Linked DNA regions of Homo sapiens. The protein of the gene in region 1 purifies or fractionates together with the protein of each later gene. This does not show direct contact. Each region holds a gene or a part of one and is shown in the gene's direction. Other genes may lie near its edges. The genes, in order: LMAN2, TMED2 and ATF6.

The links.
Region 2: the proteins of LMAN2 (region 1) and TMED2 purify together in Homo sapiens (affinity purification with mass spectrometry; 2 studies listed by BioGRID and IntAct, with this or other methods). This does not show direct contact.
Region 3: the proteins of LMAN2 (region 1) and ATF6 purify together in Homo sapiens (affinity purification with mass spectrometry; one large-scale study listed by BioGRID and IntAct). This does not show direct contact.

Annotation. Positions count from the first base shown.
Region 1 is NC_000005.10:177,345,158-177,348,817, reverse strand, and holds part of LMAN2 (vesicular integral-membrane protein VIP36 precursor), read left to right. Parts: intron 1-3,660. UniProt on the Homo sapiens protein: Plays a role as an intracellular lectin in the early secretory pathway. Interacts with N-acetyl-D-galactosamine and high-mannose type glycans and may also bind to O-linked glycans.
Region 2 is NC_000012.12:123,594,486-123,596,910, forward strand, and holds part of TMED2 (transmembrane emp24 domain-containing protein 2 isoform 1 precursor), read left to right. Parts: intron 1-2,119; coding exon 2,120-2,244; 3' UTR 2,245-2,425. UniProt on the Homo sapiens protein: Involved in vesicular protein trafficking. Mainly functions in the early secretory pathway but also in post-Golgi membranes.
Region 3 is NC_000001.11:161,849,660-161,853,319, forward strand, and holds part of ATF6 (cyclic AMP-dependent transcription factor ATF-6 alpha), read left to right. Parts: intron 1-2,005; coding exon of another isoform or gene 2,006-2,062; coding exon 2,063-2,176; intron 2,177-3,564; coding exon 3,565-3,660.

The DNA of each region.
Region 1 (3,660 bases):
CCGCCTTCCTGGTTCAAGTGATTCTCCTGCCTCAGCCCCCTGAGTAGCTGGAATTACAGGTGTGCACCACCACGCCCAGCTAGTTTTTGTGTTTTTAGTAGAGGTTTTTTTTTTTTTTTTTTTTTTTTTTGAGACAGAGTCATGCTCTATCACCCAGGCTGGAATGCAGTGGTGCGATCTCAGCTCACTGCAACCTCCACCTCACGAGTTCAAGCGATTCTTCTGCCTCAGCCTCCCCAGTAGCTGGGATTACAGGCGCGCACTGCCATGTCCAGCTAATTTTTTGTATTTTTAGTAGAGATGAGGTTTTGCCATGTTTGCGAGGCTGGTCTCCGACTCCTGGCCTCAAGTGATCTGCCCACCTCGGCCTCCCAAAGTGCTAGGATTACAGGTGTGAGCCACTGTGCCTGGCCAGTATGTCAGTTTTTTAATTGAACTTGTACTTTCATTTCCACACAGAATATTATCCTAATGCAATATATTTAATGCTTGAAAATGTTATTCATTAGCCTACCATATTCTTCTGCAAGTAAAATTAATATAATAATTTAAACTTTTCAATTTTGTTGAGACTGAAACTTTTAATATTTTGTTTGAGATTATTATAATTATCTGTACACACTTGATAAAAGTAAATGCATTACACAGTTTTTGAGTAATTATACAAAAGTAAACATTTTTTGAAACATGAGATCTCAGTAGGATGTCACCCCCCACCCCCATCTGGATGGATAATACTGTCAGAATAAGACAAGTTCAGTACCACTTCTACTTTTTGTTTTTATGTACATGAATTCTGAGAAACTGTGTTCTCTTAAATAGTAGTTGGAGATGGGGTTATTTTTAAAATTTTAAATTTCTATTATAGATGGGATCTTACTATGTTGCCCAGTCTTATCTTGAACTCTTGGACTCAAGCAATCTTCCCACCTCAGCCTCTGAGTATCTGGGACACAGGTGCTCACCACCACTGTGCCTGGCACAGCGGGAGTTTTGGTAGAGCAGCATCACTGAATATTTTGATCTTCTTTTGGTTTATAAACCCAACGTCATGCAGTGATCTTTTATCAAAATTTTTGATGATGTTTCGGCTGACTGTTGATTACATCTGCATTCCGTTTCGTTGCAAGCAGAGATGTGGAAACTGCTGAACTGTAAAATAGCCTCTTATTGCCAGGTGATTCTGATGTAGTTGGCCTGGTGTAGGACCAAGGCATTAAGCTTTCTGAGCTCCCCAGGTGGGTTTGCTGTGGGTTAAGAACTGTGGTCATATCGTGTTTGTCCCCAAAAGCAGCTTCTGAATCATTTCCAGCCTGTGCCTTGCCTGCTTAAGATCCTCCAGAGGCCTTCTATTGTCTGTATCATAGTATGTCTCTACTAATCTGCAGTTTTAATCTGGGGTCATGAAGACTTTCCAAGGCCTGCGTAGTCCTGGAGGAGTCTGTTTCCAGGTCCTCCACTGTCTCATGTGCTCATTCCTGAAACCAGCCTCCCCGTGAACATGCTGGGAATGGGTGTGTGGGTTTTCCTTTCCCACCTCCCTCACTCAGTTGCCCTTCTGCTCTGAGGTCAGCCTCCCAACAGCCTGGTCTTTCTTCAGGGTGTTGTCCCCAGGTGCAGAAAACTCCTGGGCACCAAAGAGACCATTTGAAATCTGGTTTCTGGGCTGACTTTTGTACATGTGAGATATTTTTTTTTAAAGTTTTCAAATATATGAGGGCTATTTTAGTTATCTTTTAAAATTGTTTATTATTGTTAGATAGCTGATGGAATTGCATCATGGTCAGATTTTTTGGACGCGTTCTGTTTGTGCTTATGAATGTGGATTCTCTACTTGTTGACTACAGTGTGCCACGTAGGTTCTTTAGGTCAAACTTGCTTTCTGAGCTTCCCAGGTGGGTCTGCTGTGCAGCCAGGGTTAAGATTGAGTTCGGATCTTCTCTAGCTTTCCTCATGTTTTTGTCTGCTTGCTTTTATAAGTTACTAAGAGAGCTTTGTTAAAAATTTCTGTGTATGGCTGGGCAAGGTGACACGTGCCTGTAAGTGTCAGCTACTGGGGAGGCTGAGGCAGGAGGATTGCTTGAGTCAAGGAGTTCAAAACCAGCCCAGGCAGCATAGTAAGACCCCATCTCAAAAAAAAAAAAAGTGTTAAAAAAATTTCTGTATATGGATTTGTCTGCATCTTTGTAGTTCTGTCAGTTTCTGTTTTATATGTTTTGAGGCCAAATTAGGTACATACAAAAACTTAGATTTATTATATCTGTAGGTAAATGGAATCTTTTATCATTAAGAAGAACCCCTTTTTACATTTTGTTATGGGTATAGCTATAGAAGCTTGCTTTTTTTAAAAAAAAAACAACAACCGGTAATCAATTTATTAAAATAGTCAACTTTAAATATCTGCAATGGTGACTTCCACCTCAACTCCTGGCTCAATACTGATGGAAGTAATCTGCTTAATCTCAGAAGGACTGTGGAGGTCAGTGAGCCACTTGTGGATTCTCATCTGGAAACGATCCCGTGTGTTAGAACCTTCACAAGGAGTTTTTCTTGTGGTGATTCTCGAAGCCTTGATAGGCGTTCCAGCTGGTCTTTTCACTTTGAGATTCTTTTCCTTTGCTCCTCTGATCAAGTCAGCACACACCTTTTCTGGGGATTCTATGTTGCAGCTCATTAAAGTGATTCAGATTCAGTGAATTGTCACCTCTGGCTCCGCAGGTTTTCTTCAGGTATCTTTAAAGCCGTGGGTGGGCCGGGTGCGGTGGCTCACGCCTGTAATCCCAGCACTTTGGGAGGCCGAGGCAGGCAGATCACCTGAGGTCGGGAGTTCGAGACCATCCTGGCCAACACGGTGAAACCCCGTCTCTATTAAAAATACAAAAATTAGCTGGGTGTGGTGGCGGGCGCTTGTAGTCCCAGTTACTCTGGAGGCTGAGGCAGGAGAATTGCTTGAACCTGGGAGGCAGAAGTAGCAGAGAGCTGAGATTATGCCACTGCACTCCAGCCTGGGCGACAGAGCGAGACTGTCTCAAAAAATAAATAAATAAATAAATAAATAAATAAATAAATAAATAAATAAATGCATGCCATGGCTGCTGCGAGCCTTCCTGACCAACTTGTTCCTCAGCCAGAGCAAACAGTGGTGAGGCAGGAGCAGGAGCGGGCAGACCACAGCTCTGCAGCGCCTGTGGCCCTGTCTTCCTGAAGGAGCAGAAGCTTGCTTTTGGTTAGTGTTTGCATGATACATTTTTCCTGTCCTTTTACTTTTTCCCATTTCTTTATGTTTTAGCGTTTTCTCTTATAAATGGTATATTACTAGGCTTCAGGGGTGTTGTTTTTATGTTGTAAATGCATATAACATAAAATTTACCACTTTAACCCTTTTTACCTTTAAATCCATTAATTTATGAAACTATTTTCTTCAGTAGGCTACACATTGACATTGAAAGAGTGGCTTTTTTTTTTTTTTTTTTTTTTTAGACAGGGTCTTAATCTGTCACCTAGGCTGGAATGCAATGGTGTAATCACGGCTCACTGCAGCCTCGGTCTCCTGGGTGTGATCCTCCCACCTCAGCCTCCTGAGTAGCTGGGACTACAGGCGCACACCACCATGCCTGGCTAATTTTTTTTTTTTTTTTTTGGTAGAAGTAGGGTTTCACC
Region 2 (2,425 bases), on another chromosome or scaffold:
AATGGCTTGTGCCTGTAGTCTTAGCTGCTTCTGAGCCTGAGGCAGGAGGATTGTTTGAGGTCAGGAGCTTGAGACCAACCTGGGCAACACGAGACCGTTTTTAAAAAAATAAAATAAATTGGCCAGGCGTGATGGCTCATGCCTATAATCCCAGCACTTTGGGAGGCCGAGGTGGGTGGATCACCTGAGGTCGGGAGTTCGAGACCAGCCTGACTAACATGGAGAAACCGCATCTCTACTAAAAATACAAAATTAGTCAGGTATGGTGGTACATGTCTGTAAGCTCAGCTACTTGGGAGGCTGAGGCAGGAGAATCGCTTGAACCCAGGAGGTGGAGGTTGCAGTGAGCTGAGATCGCGTCATTGCACTCCAGCCTGGGCAACAAGAGTGAAACTCTGTCTCAAAACATAAAAAATAAAATAATAATAATAATAAAATACATTTAAAAATAAAAAGAATTTGGCCAGGCGTGGTGGCTCATGCCTATAATCCCAGCACTTTGGGAGGCCGAGGCAGGCAGATCACCTGAGGTTAAGAGTTCAAGACCAGCCTGACCAACATGGTGAAGCCCTATCTCTACTAAAAATACAAAAATTAGCCAGGCATGGGGGTGTGCACGTGTAATCCCAGCTACTCAGGAGTCTGAGACAGGAGAATCACTTGAACCCAGGAGGCAGAGGTTGCAGTGAGCTGAGATTGCGCCACTGCCCTCCAGCCTGGGTGACAGTGAGACTCTGACTCAAAAAAAAGTAAGTAAATAAAAAGAATTTGATCAGAAACTTGAATGTAACAAATAGAGTATAGTAAATATAGAGTAGGTGTGGATTTTACTTTAAGGATCAAATCCTTAGTTTGAGAGCAGGACAGATGAGCATAGTTTGTCTTGTATTTGATGGTCTGGTAGTAACTGTCAGTATGGATCCATATAACTGAGTAACCTCTTCCATTGAGAACAATTGACAAGTACACAGGTGCTCAACAAATATTTGTAACATATTTGGGGAAAAAGACACTCAGACTGCCATATTTTGATGTTGTAAATAATTGCATTTTGGATAACTGTGATTTTGAAATAATTCCTTAATTTTTTTAGAAGTCAGTTTTCTGATTCAGCAAATTGGATACTAATACAGGACGTTTCAATGGTGAGGGAGAAAGATGGTTGTATTGGGTTTTAACCCTAGAATTATGACCTTGGGCAAGTCACATTTTCTTCTCTGCTCCCCATATACAAGCAGAATGGACTTGGCTGTACCCAGTGAATCTTTAAGGTTTCTTTTAAAAATCTTTGCTTCTACTTTGGGAGGCTGAGGCAGGAGGATCAGTTGAGGCCAGGAGTTCAAGACCAACTTGGGCAACATAGCAAGACCCTTTCTCTACAAAAACAGAAAAAATTAGTCAAATGGGCTGGTGCATACCTGTACTCCCAGCTACTCAGGAGGCTGAGGTGGCAGGATTGCTTGAGTACAGTTCAAGGTTGCAGTGAACTATGATTGTGTCATGGCATTCCAGCCTGGGCAACAGAGCAAACAAAAAAGTCTTTGCTTTGGAGTATGTTGAGTTGCTTGGAGACAAAAGTATTTAGAGTATAGGTGACCCATAGGTTACAATGACTTCACTTAGAAATTTTCAGCTTTATGATGGTGCAAAAGTGATGTGCATTCAGAAGAAACTGAGCATCAAGTACCCATGCAACCATTCTGTTTTTTACTTTCAGTGCAGTGTTCACTAACTTGATAAATAAAATAGAAAATAATAATAAAATGCAGTTTAACGTGTATGAGATACACAACACTTTATTATAAAATAATCTTTGTGTTGTTAGATGCTTTTGCTCAACTGTAGGCTAATGTAAGTGTTCTGATCGTGTTTTACGTAGGCTAGGCTAAGCTATGATGTTTGCTAGGTTAGGTGTATTAAATATATTTTTGACTTATGTATTTTCAACATAAGCTGGGTTTATTGGGATGTAACCCCATCGTAAGTTGAGGAACATCTATTCTATGAGTGGTGTACACAATATTACTTTCACACAGAGTGAAGACTAAAATATTTATGATGCCTATGTCTTTTTGGGGGAGAATTGTTAAATTTTGTTTGTTTGTTTTGTCCTCAACAGTCAACGACAACACAAACAGCAGAGTGGTCCTTTGGTCCTTCTTTGAAGCTCTTGTTCTAGTTGCCATGACATTGGGACAGATCTACTACCTGAAGAGATTTTTTGAAGTCCGGAGAGTTGTTTAAAAAGCCTCTTCCTGATGATCCCAACTCAGAATTCACTGTTTACCAAACACCTTGGTCATAATAATGTCATTAGTTTCTCCATTTTTATTTTCTGAACTGTACATTCACAACTTATGTTTCTTTGAGATTAATAGATATTGGGGGAAAAACGCCTTTTTAGGAAAATTATAGTGAAAATTTG
Region 3 (3,660 bases), on another chromosome or scaffold:
GAACTGTAAACTTTTTTTATTTTCTTTCTGCCTAGGTGACTCATCTATAATTTCATGCACAGTTCATATCTATATGTCCTGATGACTCTCAAATTTATGTTTTCAGTCCAGACTTCTCTTCTGAGTCTCCAGAGTCACATATCCAATAGTCTCTTTGACATCTCTGTTTTAACATTTCAAACTTAACATGTGCACTGTGGAACTCAGTTCCTCTCCCTGTTTTACTTCCAACCAATTTTCTACAACTGTGTTTTTTCCTTTCCATTGCTTAAGCCAGAAATCCTGATTCCTGTCTTTCAACAAGTGTTGTTGATACTCTTCCCCAAAATTGTCTTGAATTGGTCCACTCCTCTCCGTCTCTGCTGCCACAAACCTAGTCCATGCCATCATCAGTTCTTGCCAGGATTGCCATAGCTCTTTCCTAATCAGTGTCTCAGCTTCCCCTTTTGCCTCCATTGAGTCCATTTTTGGTACCATGGCAAGGTATGAATGTAAATTGAAATATATCACTTCTTTATTTGAAACACTTTTATGACTTCTTATTACATTTAGTAATTCCTTATTATGACCTGGTCTTTTATTATGACCTTATTATGATTCCTTTCCAGCCTCATCCTGTTCCCTCTCTACCTCCCCACTTGCTTGCAACTCTTCAGCCAGTGGTCTTTTTAAAGTTCTTTGAGCCCACCTTTCCCCCACCTGCCTCTTTTATGCCTAGAATGCTCTTACCCCAGTTTCTATAGAGGCGGCGTCTTCTCATCATTTAGGCCTTGATGTAACTACCATCTCCTTCTCGGACCATTTTATCTAAAGTATATACTACCATTGCTTTTCCATTTCAACCATTTGTTTGTTTCTTTCATAGCACTTACTAGAGTTCGGATTATTTTATGCATTTATTTTCTTCTATTTGGTCCATCTTCCCCATTAAGGTCTTTGGGGACAGAAACTTTGATTCTCTCATTCCCTACTGGATTCTCAGCACCTAGCACAATACCTGGTGCACAGTTGGTATGCAGCAAGTATTTGTTGAATGAATAAATGAAAAGTGTGAGTCTCACTATGTTCAGTTTTATATGTTTACATGTTTTCTTTTGAGATATTAGCATATCTAGTTTTCTAAATCCAGATCATCCTATATAAAGAAATTCAAGAGAGATGCAAGCTTTGTTAGTGAGAGAGATTAAGATTGCAGACTGAAGAGCATAAATAACAGTAATATCCCCATCTCAAATTCTAACTTTCAACTCCAGTTTTGCTCCCTACGTCACACCTTGGATATGAATTCACATGATCTACATCAGTGCGATGGCTAGGAAAGTATATATTTTTGAAGCAAATGGAGTAACTAGTTAATGTCAGTCACTCTGTTGTTTTATTAGTGATTCACATTCTTCCATGATCCCATAGTTTATATTCGGCTTTTCAACTCTTTCACTTTTCTCCTGCCAAGCATTTTATGTCTCACCCTATCCTTAACATACACACACACACACACACACACACACACACCCCTACCTGTTTTACAGATACTATCCAGTTTTATCATAGAATTGTGTCTCACCCTATCCTTAACACACACACACACACACACACACACACACACACACACACACCCCTACCTGTTTTACAGATACTATCCAATTTTATTATCATAGAATTGTGAATGACCCCTAAACTTTAGTCTGGTCACATAATACCACTTGATTTTCGCCTCAATTACCCCGTTACTGTGTTACTACCTCTGTACCAGCAGCATTGTGCATGTCTTAAGCTCATTGAAGATATGATGAACCATGTGTTATTGTATCGCTTATTCCAAATTAATTGCTCAATAAATGGTGATTAGACAAATGTGAATTACCATCCTGTCTCTGTAGAAAATCAGAAAATGACATTTCATGTAAAATAAGGTTTTGTATTTTATACTTTATCTTGCAGTATATTCTGTTTACTATATTTTTGTTTCCATGAAAAGTTAACACTAATGATGATTTTCTTATAGCAAACTTCTTAGGAATTTAAGATACAAGGAAACAAATTTTGTGCATCCATGTTTCAGATATGATCATTCTGTTTCAAATGACAAAGCCCTGATGGTGCTAACTGAAGAACCATTGCTTTACATTCCTCCACCTCCTTGTCAGCCCCTAATTAACACAACAGAGTCTCTCAGGTGAGTGTTGTAGATTATTGCAGAAACATCTGAGTTGGTTCCCATGTTTAGTTTTGGAACCTAGACAAGTAATTGGTCAAGTTCACTAAGTGACTGAGAGAATCTCTGAATTATTTGTGGATAACTGTAGGCATATTAGTTGTCCAGTTTCTCCACCAACCTCATGGAGATGGTGATGGGTCTATTTTATGTGATAGTTGCTTACTTAAATATGTCTTCTTTAAAAACTACAGAATGAAATTAATATTAAAATTTCATGGTGTTAGGCTTACAGTTGGTAACATTCATAGCAGAAAGTACCTTTTTCTTCCAATTAGGAAGATAATAATTTGTGGGTATGTGATTCTGGAGATACTTTACCGTTAGTACACACTTCTTTATCAATTTTTCCCTTGAATTTTTTTTTCCTGTGATTTTGGACCTTACCCTTAAAACCTCAAAAACTACCTCAGATTTTTTGTGATATGTAGTAATCAACTACAGTTAAACATAGTTTAACATCTTCACAGCTGCTGTAAAAAGTAAGCAAAATAAGGGAAGTTATATATGAGCTATGCTTTTATTTCGTGTGTTGAAAAATTTGAATTTTTTTTTACCCCAGGCAATTGAGTTCATTCTTTTTCTTCTCCCAAAAGAGCATGATTTTCAAGAGGTTTTAATGCATCTATTTGTTGTTAGGGGTCCTATGACTTGTTAAGTTCTCTACAATGTGTCTCAAATGTTTGTGTTTATATAGCCCAAGAACAGAAATAGGAAATACTTTTTATTTTGTTTTGTTTTATTTTATTTTATTTTTAGACAGGGTCTTGCTCTGTTGCTCAGGCTGGTGTGCAGTGGCTGGATCATAGCTCACCGCTTCCCCAAACTCCCAGGCTCAAGTGATCCTCTTGCCTTCGCCTCCTGAGTAGCTGGGACTACAGGCACATGCCACCATGCCCAGTTAATTTTTTAAAAAAATTTTCTGTAGAGACAGGGTCTCACTGTGTTGCGCAGGCTGATCTCAAACTCCTGGGCTCAAGCAGTCTTCCCACCCCAGCCTCCCAAAGTGCTAGGATTACAGGTGTAAGCCACTGTGCCTGGCAAGGAAATACTTTTTTTGGTGGAAAAACCTTAGCATCCAGTGTTTATATTTGGGAGGTATTTAGCTGTAGTTTTCTTTGAAGTTTGAATGCATGGTTGACAGGTTTACCATGTAAAAATGCATGTCTTATTAAAAACAACGTTAAGTGTCAACTTTTTCAAATCAAAAAGCAATATTGAGTCATCAGGCACTTGGAATGCTCTTTGGAACCTACAAATGATTAGATTCATTTCCACCCACAGGGTGAAACATCCATTTCTATGTTTAATTAATTTCTATGTTTAATTAATTAAACTATATTTTATAGGTTAAATCATGAACTTCGAGGATGGGTTCATAGACATGAAGTAGAAAGGACCAAGTCAAGAAGAATGACAAATAATCAACAGAAAACCCGTATTCT